Homo sapiens: one gene and its partners. The protein of the gene in region 2 interacts with the protein of the main gene of each other region in a pairwise test. Each region holds a gene or a part of one and is shown on either strand. Other genes may lie near its edges.

Region 1 (3,500 bases), on a different chromosome or scaffold from region 2:
CTCAACAACACTGGGAGAGTTACACAGGCCTAAATTAGGAGAAACCTGGGAGGGGAGGTTAGAAGGGAAAGGAATGGCCTAAGTGAATATGGTTTCCAGGGATAGAATGCTTATCTTCCCACTCTTTTAGGACTGACATTCTTGCAAACAGCAAAAATCTCCATGTAATTGAGAGTGTGATATACAGATGATTTGGAGAAGAGTAGCATTCTAAGAATTCACAAGGTCTACAAAGGGAAGAGGTTCTGTAAAATACAAGGGATCCCATATAAGCTTCTAGACAGCTGCTGGGAGAGTAAATGTAAAAACATAGGGAGGCGACAAAACACTGCTGGGAAAGATGGTGTGGGGAGATGAATACAGGGAAGGGAGAGGGAAAGAAATGGTTTGCCGAAATTAATCTAGGCAGCAAACAAAGCAGTACCAGATATGACATACTACCCTACTGGGGCACCGACATTCAATGTGGAATTCAGTGAGGTGGTACCCATACCAATTCTGGTTGCATTGGGATGTGTCACTGACCAACAATCTTAAGCTACTTTTTTTTTTCTTTCTTTCTTTCTTTTTTTTTTTTTTTTTTTTTTTTTTTGAGACGGAGTCTCACTGTGTCGCCAGACTGGGGTGCCGTGGCATGATATCGGCTCAAGGCAACATCCGACTCCCGCGTTTAAGCGATTCTCCTTCCTTAGCCTCCAGAGTATCTGGGACTACAGGCAGGCACTACCACGCCCCGCTAAGTTTTGTATTTTTAGTAGAGACACGGTTTCACCATGTTGGGCAGGATGGTCTCGATCTCTTGACCTCGTGATCTGCCCGCCTCAGCCTCCCAAAGTGCTGGGATTACAGTCGTGAGCCACCGCGCCCGGCTCTTAAGCTACTTTTCATTCAGCTTCCTCCCTTATGAAATAGTGAACCATACATGTCAAATAGCCTACAGTAAAGTCCTCTCTGAGCTTGTAAACACTGTTTAAATGTCGTAATAATAACAATTAATACCTTTCACAATCCTTCTTTGAATTCAGTCTCCACACTGGCAACCCAACTCCCAGATCCCTTTACCCTCCAAACCAGAGTTGAATCTGCACTTGTGGGATCACTCATTCAGGGGCCTCCGAGGGATCCCCTGGGCTGGGACTGGGCCTTCCCAGATGCCCCAGGTGCAGACAAGGCACTCAAGGAGCTCACAGTAGGGAGGGGCCAACAATCAAAGTGATTCCTAAGCCATGCAAGTGGCCCCAGCAACACAGCAGAGACCAGATGGTCCTTCCTGTTGAGAGAGTGGGTGTCTCATTGGAAGCACCAGCAGGCCCTATGGGGTGAAGCCCTAGTGAGCAACATCTGAACTTCATAGACAAATGCAAATGTGAATGAGCTTTAAATGGCTTGGAGCTCTGGATTAGACTACCACTGCCACTGCGCCCCAGGAAAATTCTTTAACATCTCTGTACCACGATAGCCTCATTTTATTATTATGTTGCTGATAACTATGATCTAAAACATGAACTATAATTCTTTACTTCCATTTCATGGACCAGGAATCTGGAGCTCAGAGAACTTAGAAGATTTGTGTCAAGTCACATGGCTTTCATATGGATGAAAACTGAAGTGTGTGACTCATTATTATTTGGAGATAATAGAAACAATGTCTTCTTAAGGATTAAATAAATTAATCCATGTGAACTGCTTGAAATAGTATCTGGCATCACTATGAAAACAAAAGAAGTATTAACAATCGCAACTGTTGGTACTATCAAGCCGTCGGTGCGACATCAGGTGTTGTGATAGACATGGGGAGAAGAAGGCAGTGAGGGCATTTTTGATATTCTCCCACTCTTACCAGTGTTCGCATCCGTGGAGGGACAAAGGTTCTCTGGTCCTTTAGATCTGAGAGACACTCACCTTCGGGGAGATTCCCTGGAGCCTGCCGAAAGTCATCTGAGGACGTTCAACTGAAAGAGAATACATCAGAATTTTTCTTTGTTGGTAAAGGTTTCCAAACTCTAGAGAGACTTCTGTCGCATCAGGGTATTCTGCAGCAGAGGGTTATGAGTCCACTCATTGTTGAGGAGTTATTTCAGATTTGCTTCTGAATTATGTTTAGTCATGGTTGGTGCATTTATCTGTGGCATCAATTCAGAATTTTCCATCTCATGGTTTATCACATGGGGACTACACCCCATCACAGTCTCATCTTATTCCATTACATATCTTTTACTTTTTCCCAAATAATTAAATTGATTGGTTAGGAATCTGAACTGTATCCACTCAAGATGTGCAACAACTGAAAATCATTGTACACTTCAAATGGGTGAATCTTATGGTATGTGAATTAAGCTGTTAAATGTGTGATGAACCATGGATGATTTGGTCCAGTGGCTCTGAAATATTTTCAGTATAAAGACACTCCTTTACTGTCAAAACTTGGCAGATACTCAAGCACTGGCTTTTCAGGTCTCTTATAGTGATTGCGGGAGATTGTAGAATCTGGCCTGTTTAGTTGGCGAGTAATAGGTCTATTGGAGACGGTTTGGACATTCTGACCTTGTCTTATAATTATGTTGTCAGAGTAGAAGAGCAAGTAAATACATATGTCCCCTTTATATTCCTGAAATGTACAAAGCTCTCTACCCAAGAACCTATCTTTTTTTCACCCTATGTTATCTCTGCTCTCTGACAAGTGGGAAAGCTCTCTGTGTGTTGGATAAGGGATCACTCCTTCAAACTCTCTTCCAAGCTCATTACGGAGAATCAGGGTTCTTTGGGAATGAGAAGACTATTTGGTTTTGATAAACCAATACAGAGAAACAGCGATCTTTATTACATAATGTGTTCATCACCCTCACTCCTAAGATACCTATCCAATACCTACATGCTGTTAATGAAACAAACTCTGGAAGTTTTTGGCGGATCTACAGTTTTAACACTTTCTTTCTTTCTTTCTTTTTTTTTTTTCACTTGTAGCATTTTTTTAGCAGTCCTTTGATTCATTAACGGTGCTTAGGAAGAACAACATGTCGTTTAAAAAAGAAATATTTCAAACACACAGAAAAGTATGGGGAATAATATTGAGTCCAGTCGGATCTCAACATTACCCCACAGCTATGTTAGGTCTGATTTATTTATTCAGAATATTAGAAAAACTGCAAATAGGCCGGGCGTGGTAGCTCACAGTTGTAATCCCAGCACTTTGGAAGGCTGAGGCGGGTGGATCACCTGAGGTCAGGAAGTTTGAGACCAGCCTGGCCAACATGGTGAAACCCCGTCTCTACCATAAATTAAAAAATGAGCTGGGTGTGGGGGCACGTGCCTGTAACCCCAGCTACTCGGGAGGCTGAGGCAGGAGAATCACTTGAACCCAGGAGGTGAAAGTTGGAGTGAGCTGAGATTGCCTTATTGCACTCTACCCTGGCCGAGAAGAGTGAAACTCCATCTCAAAAACAAAAACAAACAAAACACACTATCAACAAGTCACAGCTGAAGCTGTCTGTGCCGCACTC
Region 2 (3,500 bases):
GCAGTGAGCTATGATCATACCACTGTACTGCCCTCCAGCCTGGACAACACTGCAAGACCCTGCCTCTTTAAAATAAATAAATACATAAAAAACAAAATTGAGTAGTACAAAATTTTGTGTCATCAAAGATACATGGCTATTAAGCCCAAAGTAAGTCTTAAAAGACTATTAATATACCAATTGTTTCCAAATTTTGTATCTTAATTGTTCAAAATGCATGCTTTTACCTAATCTTCCTACCACTTCTACTCTTAAGTCTTTTGTTTAAGTATGTCAAAAATAACAATATAATAAAATTAACAAAGTCTAAATCATACACCATCAACAAAGGAAGGGCACATATGATGCTTAGTCCAAATTCTTTAATTTATAAATCAGCAAACTGAGGCCTACAGAGCCCAGGATTAGAGAATAAATTAAAAATAGCTACAAAAGAAATCCATCTCCCAATTTCAAGTCCAGTGTTCTTTAGACTATACCATACTGCACAGAAGATGGTAAGAGTTAAATAAATGATGTACAAATGGCTTTTACATGAGCACTTAAATTCTATTTATAATATAGCATTTAAAAACATTCTAGTTACCGCAAAACAACCTAATAAGTTTTTAAATCAATTTTATTTTACCATAAAGCATTTAAAAAATAAGACTTCATTTTCTACCTTCAAAATTGGCAAAGAAAAATTCAGACAACTGTACAGACATTTCAAAGTTTAAGCACTCTCATATACTAAATACTTCTTTTCTAGAGGGCAATTTAACAGAAAGAATAAAATTAAATATTTTCCTCTCTTTTAACTCCATTCTTAGACTATCTCAAGGGAAAAGTAAGAGATCTGGATGGAGACAGAACTCAGGATGGTATGCAACATTGTTTAAAAATAACTAAAATATCCAACAATAGGAGACTGATTACAACTAATGTATATCATACACTGAACATAATGTAGCCACTAAAAATTATATTCTAGAATATTTAACGACTTAAGAAAATATTCACATTAAGCTACAATTGTACCCACTGTGCAATTCCATTCCACTGAGAAGAAACACATGTATATATATAAACTACATAATGCTTTCATAAAGCATTTATAACAGTGCTTGGCATACAGTAAAAATCTAATAAATGAATATGTTTCATCACCAACATCATAAGAAAGGTTTCCATGTAGACCAAAATTTTAGCAGCTGTTATTTAATGGCAGAATTGCAAATAAATTATTACTCACTTTAGAGATCATTTTGTACATTATCTGAAATAAACTACTACTCTTACATGGGGTGAAGCATTTTTTAAATTGGCATTTTTAATGTCGTTCCTGTTCCTACTGAAAGATGGAGAAGAAAAGCAGGCTTGTCTTTACCAATCATTTCCCCAAACTGGGTAAGACTAGTCAAGTTCAAGTTATACAACACCAGAGAAAAGGCTAAATTGTTACACTTTCCCCTTAGGCAGTTCTCAGTCACCAACAGCTGCAGTATAAAATCACGGAATCTGCTGCTGTTTACCCTTTCCTGATCAATTTCACTTCTTTATCCCTAGTCAGTTCCTCACCCTTGGCACTAATGTGGAACCATGGGGGAAAGGGAGAGCAATTTAAAGACTTAAAACTGATAAACAGCTGGAGATACATATTCCTAAATTTTGAGCTTCCTATGCCAAAAAAGACAGACACACAAATGTCTACCTTCTTGTGGATATAACACGGGTCTTCAGATACACCACATAACTCAGAGGCCAAGCACATCCAAACATCCCAACAGCACTTTAGGACAGTTTTTAAGCCTGATCTAAGTTATTTCTCAAACTTGCAGAAACAAAACATGTCAAAAATGAGGCCAATTTTTGTCTTTTCTTAAAAAAAAAGGTAAGCCTTCTTAAACGGGTAATAATTTACTTTTCCCATACTCTTTTTCGGCCTTTTTTTCTAATACAGCTAATGATCTCAAATGCATAAATTCAGAGAAAACAAAAAAATGAGGTAATGAGGCTCCATTAATTCAACCACATTTGTAGAGCATTTGCCATCAAGCACTGTGCTAGGCATACAAACAAAAGTAGGGAATTACAGAATAGCGGTCATAGAAATAAGTAAATAATCACAATATTATATGATTTTAAAACTAATATACATATGTACGAAGTACAGAGGCAACATAGAGGGACAGAGTGTTGAAAGAGGGGAAGAGAGAAGGTCTTTTGGGGAAAAATGACAAATTTACAAAAGTTTGTAAGGAGAGGAATTCTAGGTATGGTATCATAATGTGTTTAAAATATATAATTCAGGATCATAAAGTTTTAAGTGAGAAAGCAGAGGGAAATTAAGTTGAAGCAAGTATGCAGTCATTTAGCTGATTTTTACACAGGCCAACTGAATAATAAGCAAATTTTTATATTATGTATACACCACATCTATATAAACAAACATTAGATGGCTTAATATTACACAGCTTTCCAGTGCTTCCATTTATTTCTAGAATGTTTTCCAATTTTATATATATATATATGTGTGTGTGTGTACATACATATACATACGTAAAATGTATGGGGTGAACATATGTTTATTTACACTTATCAAAAATAACTCACCACTGGGTATATTTTTTATGAGGCACTAAATGATATAACCATAAAAATTTGCTTTCTATTTACGGAAAAACAGTTCAAACTCAGATTACAACATAGTACGTTTATCATACATGGTCTAATTCTAGTTAACCTAATTCCAAAATCTAATATAATCCCAACTTGCTATTAGAAAGCCTAATACTGACACAGGAAGTGTTTCTGGCTAACGTGAACCTAATAAGCCAAATGCTTATTATTTCAGCTACTTCACTTCTCCAAATGTTTTGGCCAAATTGACAAAAGGACATGCAGTGCTATATACACTCAATACCAAAGGACAAAGACTCTTAAGTATTATATAATATGCCTTTAAATGTTTAAAACTCTATTTAGAAGGCTAATTCAATAATGTAAAATATGGTACAGTTATATCTATCGGAAACATTTGACTGGAGTATTAAACAGTCTCTGTGCAAATTACCTACAAAACAAACATGTATGTGGCTATTTCCTCTACTATTTATAACACAAATTCTTTTGCTCTAGAGTATGTTTACTATTTTTGAAAAGTAAGATTTTTAAACATAAATGTGAAACAATCTAAGAAATGCTTTATTCTAATTTATTTCTTCCTTACTTGGTTTGGCATTAAAGCAAAGCCCTACACATAACAGATCCCCCACTAATTCTTGATTAAATATATTCTCACAGTCAGCCTAGGAGTTATCCATTTCTCTACATAAAACTTTAATTTCAAATAATAAGCATGTACTCGAGGATTTCAGAATGAGGCCCTACTGGATTTTACCACAATGGCTATCTAGAAAGGGTTAATGGTTTCCCAGGAAACTGGTGATTTTCACTTTTCTTGAAGGTTGAAATCAGGTGAAAAAGAAACTAAAGAATGTTAAAAATAGTCCCTACTG
Region 3 (3,500 bases), on a different chromosome or scaffold from region 2:
TGCCACTCTGTATATTACTTTTCTCTAGCACTTACTGGCAAATCCTTTTCCATCATTAACGGCCTCCTAACTGGAAACTCTAAGACCAACCTTCCCCAGCAACCTCAGGATCCTTCTGTAATGTACGCCAGATCAAGATCCTCAGGGCTTCCAGTCTCAAAGAAAAGCCGTCCAGCTCCTCATCTCTGAGTCCACCTCATCCGATCCCCATCTTGCTCTCTCTGCTACCCCCAACTCGCCTCCCTGCTGTCTGTTTCCTCTCCCCAAAGCTCCATCAACCCACGGCAACTCCCTTACCTCCTCTAGCTCTTTGCTCACTGGGCACCTCCAAGTGAGGCCCCCTCCAATTTGGACAGCTGACATGCACCTGCCCTGACCACACACTCGGGCTCCCATCACTGCTCTGCTCTCATCACCCCACACACTGCAGCATAACCCTCATTGCCTGACTCTGTCACCAGAGCATGAGCTTCCTGAGGGCAGGAGTCTTCCCTCTTCTATCATTGCTGCACCCCACCCTGGAACAGCCCTGGCAAGTGGCTGACACTCAATCTACACTTACTTGTTGGAATAAATCATGTCTAGGTTTTTCTAAAATCTGGGATTGTTTTACAACATGAAAGGCATTAACAACGCATAGTCAGATTTATGGATCCAATAATTATAAACCTTCCATAGTTCATTATTTTTTAACTATAAAATGAAAACATTTATCTTATTTTTAAACCCCTAGTCTCATAGCTCAAAAACCATTTACTCACAAACCGTAAGTTTTCTCTGGCTTAGGAATGGGATCATCAAAGAAAGAATCTCCTTCCATATCATCTTCATCTGGACAAAGGCCAGCTTTGTCTTTGCCATCTAAAGTTCTGTTGCTTAGAAAAGATCCAATTTTTGTTTCATGGGACAGTAAGTGAAGGCTGCTTTTGCTCTTGGGTTCTGACAAGGAGACACTTGTATCACTCTGATTGGCCTCATCATTGGCCTTCTAGAAAGAGAGGGAAAGAGAAAAGGCCTCCTTGGTGAGATAAAACTTTAAGATATTTTCAATAATAAAAGAAGTCTCATGAGCATAATCAAACCTGTGTGTGTGCAACCTTTGTGTGTGTGTGTGTGTGTGTGTGTGTGTGTGTGTGTTGGGGCAGCTCTCAGCAGCGTGAACTGCAGAGCAATGCCACAATTCATCACTCCATCCCCAGGATTCCTAACATGGCAAACTTTCAAAGGGGGAAAAATATTAGAGAAATATATTAATACCATTCCTTTCCTCTTTCCCTAAATGGAAATACCTTTAGTATACCTATCCCATTTATAAACACTTTCCCATTGAGAAACAATTTCCCATCTCCTCTTCCATATGTCATTGCTTCATAAGTTATCTTAAATTAATACATTTTCAACTTGAAATCAGGAGAGATCATTATTATTAAAGGAGAAAAGAAAGATTATTTCATATGAATGAACCAAGCATTAAAGTAGTCATCAGTAAAAATAGCAATTTTCTATCCAGTGCTAAACACAACAGGCATCAAGGTGAAAGGCGCTGCCTTCAACCACTCATATTTCTAACATAAACCTTTGCTAATCAAAGTAATTATCTCAATTCTAACTTCCAGGGTAACTTCCTAACCTATACCTCATTTTGATGTCCATGGACATATATACGTGTGTGTGTGTGTGTATTTCTCTATGTATATTAACATCAATGTTATAAAAAAATTCTGAATCATCCTTATCCATGCCCTTGGATACAGAGTGATGTTACCACTTTTCTTTTTTGTTTTCAGGGAGTCCTAACCTTCACAGCCGACTTTCACTCCATTCTTGGTCAGATTTCTTTCTGCCCTTAGACGGGTCTATGTTAATAATAATAATGAAAACAAAAAATAATGCTAGTAATAATAAAAGCAGCTGACATTTATGGAGAACATTCAAATGCTTCACCTTATCTCACTGAATCTTGAAAATGGCCCTAGGATCTGGAGATGGCTTTCTATCTGTGGATATAAATCAGGAAACACAGAGACAGACATTGATGTCACTTGTCAAAGTCTCCAGAGAGTTAAGTGGTCAGGTCAATATCAAAGTCAAAGCCTGCTTCCAGAGGTTAACTCAATATTTATGCTATTAAGCTAAATTATAATGAATTTGTGGGCTTTATGGGTTAAAAATGGCAATTTCCCAAAATTCAGCCTTGCATACTAAAGAGAGCAGTATTGTGTAAAATACCCGTGGAATAATAGAAAAAGCACTCAACTGAAACAAGGAATCTGGAATGTAGTCCAAAATTATTAACTCCATTTTTTTTTCTTTTTTTTTTTTTTCTTTTTTAAGAAACAGGCTCTCACTATGTCATCCAGGCTGGTCTTAAAACTCCTGGGCTCAAGCAGTCCTCCTTGCCTCAGTCTCCCAAGTAGCTGGGTTTATGGGATTACAAGCACAAACTACACCCAGTCGTATAATCTTTTTTTTTTTTTTTTTTTTTTTTGAGACAGAGTCTCGCTCTGTCACTCAGGCTGGAGTGCAGTGGGGCAATCTGGGCTAACTGCAACCTCCGCCTCCCAGATTCAAGCGATTCTCCTGCCTCAGCCTCCTGAGTAGCTGGGATTTCAGGCGCGTGCCACCACGCTTGGCTAATTTTTGTATTTTTAGTAGAAACAGGGTTTCAACATGTTGGCCACGCTGGTCTCGAACTTCTGACCTCAAGTGATCCACCCGCCTCGGCCTCCCAAAGTGCTGGGATTACAGGCGTGAGCCGTGAGCCACCATACATGGCCCGTGTAATCTTAAGTAAATTAATTTCCTAGGCATGAGTTTCCTCAAGAATTGAACTAGATTCATATTTTTCAGATCAAATTATATCTAGGAAGGGATGGATGGCTGAGAAAGAATTAAAGAGTAGTAACTACTGAAGCATGGTGACCAAAGTCTGGGTTAGACATTACCGAACAAGACGCTCCTGAAGGATGGTTTCACTTTTCATATGGGTACAGACAGAATGCATTATGCATGTCTTATGATATACGTTTACATCTTTACACCAGGTAGAGGTCTTGACTAGTTGACAGTAGGCAAGATATATGCTGTGCAAATTTTATTGCCTTCTAGAGAGCTACACATTCCATGTTATTAATATAAATTAATGATTATAAAGAGATGTCTGAAAAAATAAATAGCAAGTTATAATTTTAGACAACATATTTTCAAAGGGATGGAAACTTTCAAAAATTTCCTAACAACTTTCTTGACATTTTCCTGGTATTATCAAATATAGAAAAATATTATGTAATTCACAGCAGTTGTAATTTCTGATTTTTACACTGTTTTAATAATGGATTTATGTCTTTTTAAAAGAATATGCATTTGGAAATAAATACCCTGATGTGATATTTAAACATATGTACAATGACACAGCCTGTGGCCACGACAGATTCTCTCCTTCTAAACACTCATGAGAAAGTGCCAAAGAATAACTGGCATGACAGAAACTGAAAAATGTA
Region 4 (3,500 bases), on a different chromosome or scaffold from region 2:
TGACAACTGCTGGGTGGGAGGGACAGGCTTGGGGGCGGGGCTGGGAGGGCTCCTTCCCTTCCTGACCCAGGGATGGTCTTTACTTCTCCCTGGCACCTGTAGACCTGTCTTTCTTGTGTTTCAGATTTGCCATACGGATGGGAACAAGAAACTGATGAGAACGGACAAGTGTTTTTTGTTGAGTAAGTGTCTGCAAAGAAACCACTCTCAGCTGTTTTGCTTTTTAATAGGAATTTTTAATTATAAAAGTAATACATAGTAACTGTAGAAAAATACAAAGTATAACAGTGTGTATCTGTAATCTTAGCAGAAGTGACTACTTTTAACATCGCTGGAACTTTTAACATCGCTAGATTTATTCTTCTATTTTCCCCGCACACGCATCCTTAAAAAAAAAAAGTAGGGAGGCCAGGCATGGTGGCTCATGCCTGTAATCCCAGCACTTTGGGAGGTCGAAGTGGGTGGATCCTGAGGTCAAGAGATCGAGACCATTCTGGCCAACATGGTGAAACTCCGTCTCTACTAAAAATATAAAAATGAGCTGGGTGTGGTGGCACGTGCCTGTGGTCCCTGCTACTCGGGAGGGTAAGGCGGGAGAATCACTTGAACCCAGGAGGCGGAAGTTGCAGTGAGCTGAGATCGCGCCACTGCACTCCAGCCTGGGTGACAGAATGAGACTCCTTCTCAAAAAAAAAAAAAAAAAAAAAAGAGGGAATGCACTGTGTGGACTGTTTAGTAACCTGCTTTTTCCATGTAATATATTATGAGCATTTTCTTGTATCCATATCTATTTTTCAAAAAGATGCTATTTAGCAGCTCTAGAGTTATTATTTTGTACAGATATACTATAATTTATCAAATTGCCTATTGGACATTAATGCTAAATTCCTGTTATAGAGAACCTATAATTATAAATAATGTATTGAGCATCCTTATCTGTAAGACTTTTTCACCTCTCTGATTCTGTCTTTAGGATAAATTCCGGTATCACGCAGCAATAGTAACCACCTGTCCAACATATAGCATGAGCCAGGCCTGATTCTAATCATCTTGTATCTGTAGCATTAGGTCATTGGATCCCCACAGTGCCCTGAGAGGTAGTATTGTTATTATCCCTAGCTTACTGCCAGTGACACAGACTTGAGGGGGTAAGTGACTTGTTAAGGATCCCACAGCAAAGAAGTAGCACAGCCAGGCTTTGAGCCCAGCACCTGCTCCAGGGACTGTACTCTTGACCACCGTAGTTAAGAGGAGAATTAATGTTTCACAACTGTCAACATTTAAATTAGAAGCTTGAATAGTCTTTGACAGGATTAGGATTGGTTGGTTAATAGAAGTTGATTTGAGCAGGAATTTTTTTTTTTTTTAAAGTTATGAATGTAACATAAACGTTTCAGTATTTGATTCAAGTACACCAACATTTAGGGGTCGGGCCAGCCCTCCTCTGAGTGTGAGTCCACTTGCATGGATCCAGTGTGGTCTTCCTTCCCCTAAGCATGCCTGTAACATAACATCTACAATTTCTACTTTCATTTTATGTGGGCGAAAGAGTACCTAGGTGCCGAGGCAAGAGACTGAAGGCACAAACTGTTTCAGTATAATAAAGAAAGTAGTTAGAATAAGAATAGTCATAATACAGGTTAGATATGGAGATGATCATGGACAATTATCAATCATTACTATAAACACTATTAATCATTAGCTTTTAATATTACTCTTTGTGGCATTACTAACATAACCTAGGAATAACTGGCATGTATAGGCTCAGGTGCTAAAGGGACATTGTGAGAAGTGACCTAGAAGGCAAGAGGTGAGCCTTCTGTCACACCCGCATAAGGGCTGCTTGAGGGCTCCTTGGTCAAGCGGTAACGCCAGTGTCTGGGAAGACACCCGTTACTTAGCAGACCGCGAAAGGGAGTCTCCTTTCCTTGGAGGAGTCAGGGAACACTCTGCTCCACCAGCTTCTTGTGGAAGGCTGGGTATTATCCAGGCCTGCCCACAGTCATCCGGAGGCCTAAACCCCTCCCTGTGGTGCTGTGTTTCAATGGTCACGTACGTTGTCCGCTTTCATGCTCCTCCCGTACTCCTGGTTCCTCTTTGAAGTACGTAGTAGATAGTGGTAGAAGAAATGGTGAAAGTTTTAAAGTCTTTGATCTTTCTTTTAAGGGCAGAAAAGAAAATGCTGACGTATGCTGCCTTCTCTCTCTGCTTCGGCTACCTAAAAGGGAAGGGCCCTCTATCCTGTAATCACGTGACTTGCTTCACCTTGTCAATCACTTAGAAGATTCACCCTCCTTACCCTGCCCCCTTGTCTTGTATGCGATAAATATCAGCGTGCCCAGCCGTTCGGGGCCACTACCGGTCTCCACATCTTGGTGGTAGTGGCCCCCACCCTGGGCCCAGCTGTTTTCTCCTTATCTCTTTGTCTTGTGTCTTTATTTATTACAATCCCTCGTCTCTGCACACGGGGAGAACACCCGCTAAGCCCAGTAGGGCTGGACCCTACAACTTTAAGGTTGAGCAAACACAGTATTTTCAAAGAATCTGATTGCTACATCATTTGGGAGTTTTATGGTATTTTTCTAGCATTTTCACTGTAGTTGATTGAACCAAAACTTTTTTTTTAGCTGCTTGTCTTTGAGGCTCTCCAAAGCATTCGACCACATTTTCATAGATACCACTGACACTATTTTTCACCTCCCATGTTATCAGTTTGTGTAATAGTAGCTTGCTGGTAATGTAGTTACAGTAACAAGTTCAAATGACATGTGTGTTTTTTGAGCAAACCTGGTGAACTTTTGGTGCAAAACTGATATTGAGAGCAAATAGGCCAAAGCTTGCTTGAGAGAAGTCTCCCAGGCCACCATAGGCAGCCCCAGGAAGACGGGGCTGTCTAGCAGTTGGATAGGTGGGAGTGCCTATTATTTGTTAAAAGGCTTTTTGCCTAACTTGTGAAAGTTTTTTTTCCTCAACTAATTAAGGGTATCAACGCATTGGTTGTATGTTGAAAATGTTGAAAATGTTTTTTTTTTTTTTCCAAGTTTTCTTTCTTTTTTTTTTTTTATACTGGGTCTTGCTCTTCTTATCCAGGGCTGAGGTGCAGTGACACAGTCACAGCTCGCTGCAGCCTCAACCTCCTGGACTCAAGTGATCCTCCTGCCTCAGCCTTCTGAGGAGCTGGGACTACAGGCTCATGCTGCCATGCCCAGCTAATTTTTAAAGACTTTTTTTTTGTAGAGACTGAGGCTCAGTATGTTGCCCAGGCTGGTCTTGAACTTCTGGCCTTCAGCGATCCTCCTGCCTTGACTTCCCAAAGCATTCATATTACAGGCATGAGCGACCACACCTGACTGAATTTCTTAAATTTTTTATGTAGTCAAATCAATTTTCTCCTGTGCAGTCTTTGCCTTTGCATTCACGCTTGGAAAGTTACTCCCTGAAATGGGTATTAATCAACCAAGAGCAGCAGTTCTCAGGCATGGTTCCTGGACCAGCAGCAT

The links. The genes of interacting proteins can lie anywhere in the genome.
Region 1: the proteins of SPRED1 (region 2) and SSX2 interact in binary tests that used the Homo sapiens proteins (3 or more experiments, as listed by UniProt).
Region 3: the proteins of SPRED1 (region 2) and CEP43 interact in binary tests that used the Homo sapiens proteins (3 or more experiments, as listed by UniProt).
Region 4: the proteins of SPRED1 (region 2) and WWOX interact in binary tests that used the Homo sapiens proteins (3 or more experiments, as listed by UniProt).

What each region holds. Positions count from the first base shown.
Region 1 is NC_000023.11:52,700,679-52,704,178, forward strand, and holds part of SSX2 (protein SSX2), read right to left. Parts: intron 1,953-3,500; coding exon 1,903-1,952; intron 1-1,902.
Region 2 is NC_000015.10:38,255,836-38,259,335, reverse strand, and holds part of SPRED1 (sprouty-related, EVH1 domain-containing protein 1), read right to left. Parts: intron 1-3,500. UniProt on the Homo sapiens protein: Tyrosine kinase substrate that inhibits growth-factor-mediated activation of MAP kinase. Negatively regulates hematopoiesis of bone marrow.
Region 3 is NC_000006.12:167,019,897-167,023,396, reverse strand, and holds part of CEP43 (centrosomal protein 43), read right to left. Parts: intron 989-3,500; coding exon 762-988; intron 1-761. UniProt on the Homo sapiens protein: Required for anchoring microtubules to the centrosomes. Required for ciliation.
Region 4 is NC_000016.10:78,109,654-78,113,153, forward strand, and holds part of WWOX (WW domain-containing oxidoreductase), read left to right. Parts: intron 1-124; coding exon 125-182; intron 183-3,500. UniProt on the Homo sapiens protein: Putative oxidoreductase. Acts as a tumor suppressor and plays a role in apoptosis. Required for normal bone development. May function synergistically with p53/TP53 to control genotoxic stress-induced cell death.